2 linked regions of the Homo sapiens genome follow. The protein of the gene in region 1 purifies or fractionates together with the protein of each later gene. This does not show direct contact. Each region holds a gene or a part of one and is shown on either strand. Other genes may lie near its edges.

Evidence for each region. The genes of interacting proteins can lie anywhere in the genome.
Region 2: the proteins of SLC26A3 (region 1) and SLC25A51 purify together in Homo sapiens (affinity purification with mass spectrometry; one large-scale study listed by BioGRID and IntAct). This does not show direct contact.

What each region holds. Positions count from the first base shown.
Region 1 is NC_000007.14:107,792,476-107,797,338, forward strand, and holds part of SLC26A3 (chloride anion exchanger), read right to left. Parts: intron 2,123-4,863; 5' UTR 2,035-2,122; coding exon 1,904-2,034; intron 1,407-1,903; coding exon 1,267-1,406; intron 1-1,266. UniProt on the Homo sapiens protein: Mediates chloride-bicarbonate exchange with a chloride bicarbonate stoichiometry of 2:1 in the intestinal epithelia. Plays a role in the chloride and bicarbonate homeostasis during sperm epididymal maturation and capacitation.
Region 2 is NC_000009.12:37,890,170-37,895,032, forward strand, and holds part of SLC25A51 (mitochondrial nicotinamide adenine dinucleotide transporter SLC25A51), read right to left. Parts: intron 1-4,863. UniProt on the Homo sapiens protein: Mitochondrial membrane carrier protein that mediates the import of NAD(+) into mitochondria. Mitochondrial NAD(+) is required for glycolysis and mitochondrial respiration.

The sequences.
Region 1 (4,863 bases):
CTAGATCCCTTGCGTGCACAGTTCACGATAGGGTTTGCACTCCTATGAGAATATAATGTTGTCGCTGATCTAACAGGAGGTGGAGCTCAGGAGGTAAAGAGAGCAATAAGGAGCGGCTGTAAATACAGGTGAGGCTTCATTTGCTCACCTGCCACTCACCTCCTGCTGTGTGGCCCAGTTCTTAACAGGCCACGGACCTGTACTGGTCTGTGGCCCAGGGACTGGGGACCCCTGGCATAAGCACCCAATGAAAAATACAGATAGACTGGACTTAATCACAATTTAAAAACGTGTACTTCAAAGGATACTATCAAGAAAGTTAACCAATAATTCACAGAATAAAAAAGTTATCTGCAAATTGTATATCTGACAAGGGTCTGGTATCCAGAATATAGAAACAACACTTGCAACTCCACAACAAAAAGACAAATAACCCAATTTAAAAATGGATAAAAACTTTGAATAGACATGTTTCAAAAGATATACAAATGGCCAATAAACACCTGGAAAAAATATTCAATATTGTTAGTCATTAGAGAAATGCAAATGCAAACCACAATGAGATACCACTTCACACTCACTGGGATAGCTAAAAGAAAAAAGATGGACAATAACAAGTGTTGATGATATGGAGAAATCTGAACCCTCATACACTGCTAGTGGAAATGTAAAATGGTGTAGCTACTTTAGAAAATAAGTTAGCAGTTCCACAAATGATTAAATATAGAGTTACCCTATGATCCAGCAATTACAATCCTAGTGATATACCCAAGAAAATTGAAGCATGCTCACACAAATATTTGTACACAAATGTTCAAAATAGCATTACTCATAACTCATAATAGCCCCCAAGTGGAAACAACTCAAATGTTCATCAACCGATGAGCAGATAAAAAAATTGTGATATGTCCATACAACAGAATACTTATTTGTCCATAAAATGGAATGAAGTACCAATACATGCTACAATATGGATCAACCTTGAAAACATTACGGTGAGTGAAAGAAACCAGACACAAAGTGCCATGTATTGTATTATTTCATTTGCATGAAATATGCAGAAGAGGCAAATCCACAGAGAAAGGGTAGGGGGGATGTGAAGTTAATGGGTAAGGGATTTTTAGGGGTTGGTGGTGGTGAAAATGTTCCAGAATTAGATAGTGGTGACAGATGCACAACCTAGTGAATATACGAAAAGTCCCTGAGCTGTACACATTCAGAGGAAGAATTTTATTGTATATAAATTATACTTAAAAAAAATTTTACCTTGTAGTACGGCCACAATCCCTGTGCTGATACCAGAAACAATATCACTGAGCAACCATTCTTTAAGCCGGTATGCTGGCAACCAAGATGCTATGGGGAACAAAGAGAGGACAATTCTCTTGGCCTTTTGTGGGGAACAGCTGAAAACATGGAAAGCCACAGGTCAGTCAATTAATATCAAATTTTAAGTTTAGTACCTGTCGGTGGGAAATTGGTAAAGATGGTAATATGCTAAAGATTAAACTAGTAATTTCACTCCCAGTAACATTCTTTACCCATAATCAGCTGCCCTCTGGTCACCAACAAAGGATTTTTTAAAATGCTTGCTTTTCTTTAACCATAATAGACCTATTTGTCATCCTCAGCTCAAATCATGCAATATTTCAAATGAGAATTTTCCTCTGTCCCCATCTGTTAGTTGTCTGATTTGGAAAGACCGTGTTGATAAGCCGAGATGGGGTTCATTTTAGACACTACCTTTCCAACTCTGTCAGGGAGTAGGAGGTTTGGAAACTAAAGAGGAAAGGACTGTAGGCTGTGGACTAGAGCCAGAAAGGAGAGTTGGAAAGTTAGAAAATTTAGGGGAAAGTGCTTCAAAAATGTATTCCTAATGCCAATACCTTAAAAAATATCTTACCTACAACACACTTTGAGATGATCCAGAAATGTCTTATGATGTCTTCCTGTCTTTTTATGATTTTCCTCAAAAGCATTTGTAGAATACACTGGCCTGGCCACAATATACTGATTCCCAAAGGGTTCAATCATTTTGATTTTTCTGTTGGCTGTGGCAAGTTGAAGACCTTTGCAACTATGTGGTGAACACTTCTTCTTGCCTTTAGCAGGTTAAAAATGCCTGAAACCAAACAGAGCTTGCTTCTTAAATAACTCAGAGATAATGTGATGCAATTTACAGATGAGTGAGCTCCGAACTGAATGTTACCACCTTTTAAGATCAAAAAAGGCAGGATTAAGGGACCTAGATTGTGTTTTGCGACAGCGATGTTTTATTCCAGTGAGCTGGACGTGGCTCTTTTAGGTAAGTAAACAAGAGCTTTATTTTTTAATTTGCCAAAAAGTAACAAAATTGACTCAGTTTATGAATCAATTAGTCAATTTTTTACTTACAAGGCAAGATATTCTCATCAACTTTTTTTCCCAGAAATATTTCCAAAGTTAAGGCATTTAAGTGTTGGGACAGGTTAGATTTAAAGTTTTTTTATTGCCCCAACTCCAGTCCAGACTGTTCCAATTTACCCAACAGAATTTTAAAATTTGTTTTTTTTACCTTGTAAAATTAAAAAATTGTGAAATTCAAAGGTATTGCCTATTTCAGTTATTTCCTTATTGTTTCTGGGAGTTAGAGTTTTACAATTTATAGTTAAGGAAACTATGAAACAAACTAAATATTATTTGTTTACTTCATTTGTGAGTAATAAGGTCTTTTTAAAGGAATGATCCTGGGCAAGTTCCTTAACCTCTCTGAGCCTTGCCTGTATAATGGGGATAAAGATATTCAAGTTTCAGGTGATTGTGAAGATTAAATAAGGTTTCCAAAGCATCTGGTTTACATCCAACACACTATAGGCATTTACTAAATGGTAGTTATTATTTTGATTATTAGCATTTTTTACACAAAATGTTTAAGTTTTTAATTCTTATCTCAATCCTGTTTCTATTATGCTTAAAAGATCAATTTGACAAAATGTTTAAATGCACATTACCAAGTTAGCCTTCACAATTCTTTGAGGCAGTTACCCTTATTATTTTATTATTATTATTTTATTCTTACAAATGATAAAATAATCACACACACTCCAAACCCACACTAAATTGGAAATACTTTTTCTTGGGACATACAGCTTGTTAACATGGCAGAAATGGTACCTGCATTTTCAGACTTCTTTGCTCTCTTTTCTATGTCATGCAGCTTCTCTATTGTTCAATATAAACATAATCGAAGAACATTCCAACTAACTGCTAGCATTTTTTCCCTCTAATCTTGTTCTGTATTACTACTCATAATGCCCAAGTTTTGTTCCTCAGCTTCAATCACAGTGATTAATTGAATTATCTCACACTAGATAGTATCTTGTTACACCGTGCCCTCATATACCTTATGGGATTTTCAGCATGTTTGCAGAGCTCAAGTTATAACCAGGAATCAGATGCTGGCCTCTACTGCTGGCCCCACTTGACCTCTCTTTGATCACTCATTTTTCTCTCCCATCCCATTTTCTAGTTTCCTCTAAAGTCCTCTGTACTCACTTTTGACCACAATATACTGCTTCTGCCCCACATCTCTGGCTTGATCTCCAGAATTTGAGTTCCTTTGAGCTCAGTTATGACTCCCTTATTATTATTATTATTATTATTATTATTATTAGAGACAGGATCTCACTGTCGCTTGGGGTAGAGTGCAGTGGTGCAATCATAGCTCACTATGGCCTCTTAACTCCTAGGCTCAAGCGGTCCTCCTGTCTCCTGAGTAGCTGGGACTACAGGTGTGGCCCACCATGCCCTGCTAATTTTTAAAATATTTCAGTAGAGGCAGGGATCTTTCATATGTTGCCCAGGCTGGCCTCAAACTCCTAGGCTTAAGCAATCCTTCAACCTCAGCCTCCCAAGTTGCTGATAGGTGCACCACCAGGGCCTCGGTTATGACATTTAGATCCTCCTTTGCTATTCTTTCTGGGCCTCTCCTCCCCTGCCACTCCCAAGTGCTTGTTTTCTCTTTTGTTTCCATTCCCTCTTCCATCTCTCCACCCACACTTCAGGGGTCAAATCCCACTAACTAGACAGTACTTCCCATTGTCAGAAGAACTTGCTCACAAAGTGGAGGTGACTTGTGCATTGCTGTGCAGAGCATGGATTTTTGTCTTTTTTTGGCTGATTACCAACAACATGGTTGGGGCAATAATAATTAAGATCTAATCCATGGTCAATCACTTCTGACATCTTGGATTTCTCACAAAGGGTATCTGGAATATCTTATAAGAACAGCTTTAATCCTTTGAAGGAACCAACCTAGCCAACCTTAGGATGAAGAAGACTTCAGCACTGTGCATTTGTACTTCTGTCAGATGCTGCTATGGCCAGGAAAAAAAAAAAAGATTCTGCTCTTTGCTTGCTTTACTCATGCTTTCCTCAAGGAGTTCACAGAAATTTATTAGTTGTCTTCCCCAAAAAAGATCTTGAAGGTACTTTTATTCTTCTGGCTGTTGTATTTTTTTTATTTTAATTTTTTTTGCCGATGACAGTGATGGGAGAAATATAACTTCATTTCTAATCAGTTTCCTTCTCTGAGGATGGCTATGGCTGTCTCTTTAGTGGGCTTTCTTATACCTCCAGCTGGATCAAGAGCCTGAACTCTGGCTGTCCTGCCAGTAAAAGCCTCCTCCTCATACCCAAGCACTGCCTGCAAGGGCCCTGCTCAGGGTAGGAATCAGGGGAGCTTAAGAAATCTTTCCGGCCAGGCGCGGTGGCTTACGCCTGTAATCCCAGCACTTTGGGAGGCTGAAGCAGGAGGATCACTTGAGGTCAGGGGTTCAAGACCAACCTGGCCAACACAGTGAAAACTTGTCTCTACTAAAAATA
Region 2 (4,863 bases), on another chromosome or scaffold:
AATCACGAGTTTGAGACCAGTGTGGGCAACATAGAGAGATCCCATGCCTATGAAAAAGTTAAAAATTAGCTGGGCATGGTAGCACATGCCTGTAGCCCCAGCTATGTGGGATGCTGAGGTGGGAGGATCAATTGAGCCAGGGAGGTCAAGGCTGCAGTGAGCCATGATTGCACCACTGCACTCCAGCCTGGGCAACAGAGCAAGACTCTTGTTTCTAAAAATAATAACAATAATTTAAAAATTAAAAATAGTAGTCAGGCGCAGTGGCTCACACTTGTCATCCCAGCACTTTGGAAGACCAAGGTGGGAGGATTGCATGAGGCCACAAATTTGTGCCCAGCCTGGGCAACATAGTGAGACTCTGCCTCTACAAAAATCAAAATAAATTTTTGGGGCATGATGGCGTACACCAGCTACTGGGAAGGTGGAGGGAGAAGGACCTCTTGAGCCCAGGAAGTTCAGGCTGCAGTGAGCTGTGTTCATGTCACTGCGTTCCAGCCTGGGTGACAGAGTAATACCCTGCTTTAAAAAAAAAAAAGAACATACGATCCAACAATCCTACTTCTGGGGATATAACCAAAACAATTGAAAGCGCAGTCTCAAAGACCTTGTACACCCACGTTCACAGAAGTACTATTCACAACAGCCAAGAGGTGGAAACAATCCAAACCATATTTAAGAGTTTCAATGGGAAATAATAAAAACAACAAAAAACCGTCTAGGTCTTTCACTTGGAACAAAAAATTGCCAAGTTCCTTAAGTTTTTTTTCCCTCCTCATACTACACACATGCTGTGGTGAACTGCTCAACACTCAGGACAAAAGATGTTAAAGAGAACCATGATCACTCTCAAAGTAGAAAGCGTAGAGCTGAGGCACAGAAAGAATCAGATAGCATTAGTTCCTAAGGGGCGTATATCTGCCAGAGCCACCAATGTGTAATGAATATGGAACACACACACAACCATAATTTTCCTTCTAAGACTACAGATTAAGAAAATAATTCACACAACATGTACACAAAGATTCAGCCATCGCCCGGCCAGCCGCCCCGTCCAGGAGGGAGGTGGGGGGCAGCCCCCACCCGGCCAGCCGCCCCGTCCGGGAGGTGGGAGGCGCCTCTGCCCGGCAGCCCCTTCTGGGAAGTGAGGAGCCCCTCTGCCCGGCCGCCACCCTGTCTGGGAGGTGTACCCAACAGCTCATTGAGAACGGGCCATGATGACGATGGCGGTTTTGTCGAATAGAAAAGGGGGAAATGTGGGGAAAAGACAGAGAAATCAGATTGTTGCTGTGTCTGTGTAGAAAGAAGTAGACATAGGAGACTCCATTTTGTTCTGTACTAAGAAAAATTCTTCTGCCTTGGGATGCTGTTGATCTATGACCTTACCCCCAACCCTGTGCTCTCTGAAACATGTGCTGTGTCCACTCAGGGTTAAATGGATTAAGGGCGGTGCAAGATGTGCTTTGTTAAACAGATGCTTGAAGGCAGCATGCTCGTTAAGAGTCATCACCACTCCCTAATCGCAAGTTCCCAGCGACACAAACACTGCGGAAGGCCGCAGGGTCCTCTGCCTAGGAAAACCAGAGACCTTTGTTCACTTGTTTGTCTGCTGACCTTCCCTCCACTATTGTCCTATGACCCTGCCAAATCCCCCTCTGCGAGAAACACCCAAGAATGATAAAAAAAAAAAAAAAAATTTTATATATATATATATACACACAACTACTTTAAAAAAAAAAAAAAAAAGATTCAGCCATAAGATAGTCACAGCCAGGCTTTTAACAGCAAATAATGAATACAAATGCTCAATAGTAAAAGACACAATGTGTAAGTGAAGATGTATCCACAGGATGAGACATAAAGTTATTAAAAATAAAGAAGTGTTTAAGGTTCAGTGTAGGATTAATTTTGAATTTTTAATGGTATTTAGACGCAAAGTAAAAATTAAATAGCATACGTATGTCAGGTACCTATGTCAGGGGAGATAAGACAGGCAAATAATTAGACAACAGGGAGATAAATGAAATCATGGAAGGTATCAAGGCCCCATACAGCAGGAGGTCATTAATCAGCTGTCTGGAGAGAATGACAGGCAGGACATGACCCGTGGGCTCGGCTCTGAAAGCTGAATAACTGTCACTATGCACATAAGGGTGAAGCACATTTTAGCCAATGGAGCAGCAGAGGCTAAGGCACAGGTGTTGGGCTAAAGGAGCAGCGGCATCGCGTTCTTGGAGGTTACTTGTGTATGCCCTGCAGGGGCACAACGTAGGTAGAGAAGGATGGGTAGCTGATGAGGACAGAGAAGCCGGTTAGGACCCTCAGGAAAATCCCAAGACCCTCTGAACAATACTACATTATATATATACAATATATACAATACTACATTATATATATATATTTTTTTCTTTTTCTTTTTTTTTGAGACAGTGTCTCACTGTTGCCCAGGCTGGAATGCAGTAGTGCAATCTTGGCTCACCTGCAGCCTCAACCTCCTGGGGTCAAGCAATTCTCCCACCTCAGCCCTCTGAGTACCTGGGACTACAGGCACATGCCACCACACCTGGTTAATTTTTTTTTTTTTCTTTTAGATGGAGTCTCACTCTGTTGCCCAGGCTGCAGTGTAGTAGCACGATCTCAGCTCACTGCAACCTCTGCCTCCTGGGTTCAAGCGATTTTACTGCCTCAGCCTCCCAAGTAGCTGGGATTACAAGTGCGCACCACCATGCCCAGCTAGTTTTTGTATTTTTAGTAAAGACAGATTTTTGCTGTGTTGGTCAGGCTGGTCTTGAACTCCTGACCTCAGGTGATCCGCCCGCCTTGGCCTCCCAAAGTGCTAGGATTACAGGTGTGGGCCACAGCGCCTGGCCCAATTTTTGTATTTTTTTTGTAGAGATGAGGTTTCACCATGTTGCCCAGGCTGGTCTTGAGCTTCTGGGCTGAAGTGATCCAACTGCCTCAGCCTCTCAAGGTGCTGGGATTACAGGTGTAAGCCACTGTGCCCAGCCAAATTTTTTTGCTTTCTCTTGTGAAGCAAATGAAAGAAACTATTTTACTTAAGTATGTTACACTAAGATCTGTATATCCTTTTCTAAGAATATAGACTATGATTAAGAAAATGTAGACATCTGTACAATCTATGGCCTAACGCCTCTTTGGAGTTTGAGCTGCTTTGCTGTCATGTTCCTATTAGAAAAGATGAACTCTTTTTACCTAAGAGCAAGTTAGGACTAATGTCACTGCAGGCCCAAAGTCTACCCTAAGGAAGGTAATACAAGGAGTCAGGAAACTTCTCCCCACTCAAAGAAAGTCACTTGGTTGTATCCAGAGAGCTGGGCAGTGTCAGAGCTCAAACCTTTCACTGTCCCTCCCTGATCAGGAGAGCCATACCACCTCTAAGGTCCAAAATATTTTGTTCAGTTGAAGAAACCTGCTCTGAAAATTTGTTTCACTGCCTTTTAAACAGAGAGAAATTACTTCCGATTTTGGCAGTTACTAATGCGGTTAGATTATGAAGTCACCTGTATGCTCCACTGAGAGATGCCAGATTCCTTGGAGTTGGGCTGTTTGTAGATCCAGTAACAACAAAAAATCATTTAAATAAAAATTCACAGAAGAAACGTGTATAACCTACATGAATAGAGAAAAAAAGCTGGAAACCAATTAAACACACAGAGAGCCTCTCCTCCAGGCTCACTGGCCTACTCGGGTCTCTTCTCACCTGAACTAATGCAAGGGACCCTGCAGCAATCAGCCTGACTCTGTTCACGCTCACCCACCCCTATTCCCTGCCCTCTTCAACCTACTCGTCATTTTAAAAAGAAACACACACACACACTACTAAGTTTAAAAAGTGAGGTATGTAACAATGCATTTTGGAATCTAATATTAGCACAGAGATACCTGAGCGTTTAGAATGGTTGCACAGTACTCTATGAAATGACTGCACTGTATACAATTTATTCTACCTCCTATTTATGGTTGCTGTTTTTTTTTATGGTTTTGTATTATTAAGGTTTGGAAAACTCTGTGGACAATTCAGCTTGCCAAGTGTGTGAGTGGGTATACAAAAGATATACATTTTTAATTCCAAGACCTTCCAGAGAGTGTCTAGAGGAAAGGTCTAATTAAACCTGCCCCCACTCACCTTTTTTTTTAACTTTTTTTTTTTTTTTGAGGCAGAGTCTTGCTTTGTTGCCCAGGCTGGAATGCAGTGGTGCGATCTCGGCTCACTGCAACCTCCACCTCCTGGGTTCAACTGATTCTCCTGCCTCAGCCTCCCGAGTAGCTGGGATTACAGGTGCCCGCCACCATGCCTGGCTAATTTTTCTATTTTTGTAGAGATGGGTTATCAACTTGTTGGCCAGGCTGGTCTTGAACTCCTGGGCTCAAGTGATCTGTCCGCCTTGGCCTCCCAAAGTGCAGGGATTACAGGTATGAGCCACTGGCCTGGCCTTTTACAAAAAATTTTAAGTTCTGAGGTACGTGTGCAGGTTTGTTATGTAAACTTGTGCCATGGGGTTTGTTGTACAGATTATTTCGCCACCCAGGTATTAAGCCTAGTACCCATTAGTTATCTTTCCTGATCCTCTCCCTCCTCCCACCCTCCACCCTCCTATGGGCCCCAGTGTGTGTTGTTCCTCTCTATGTGTCCATGAGTTCACATCATTTAGCTTCCACTTGTAAGTGAGAACATGTGGTATTTGGTTTTCTGTTCCTGAGTTAGTATGCTAAGAATAATGGCTTCCAGCTCCATCCATGTTCCAGCAAAGGGCACAATCTTGCTCTTTTTATGCCTGCATAGTATTCCATGGTGTATGTGTACCACGTCTTCTTTATCCCGTGTACTACTGATGGGCATTT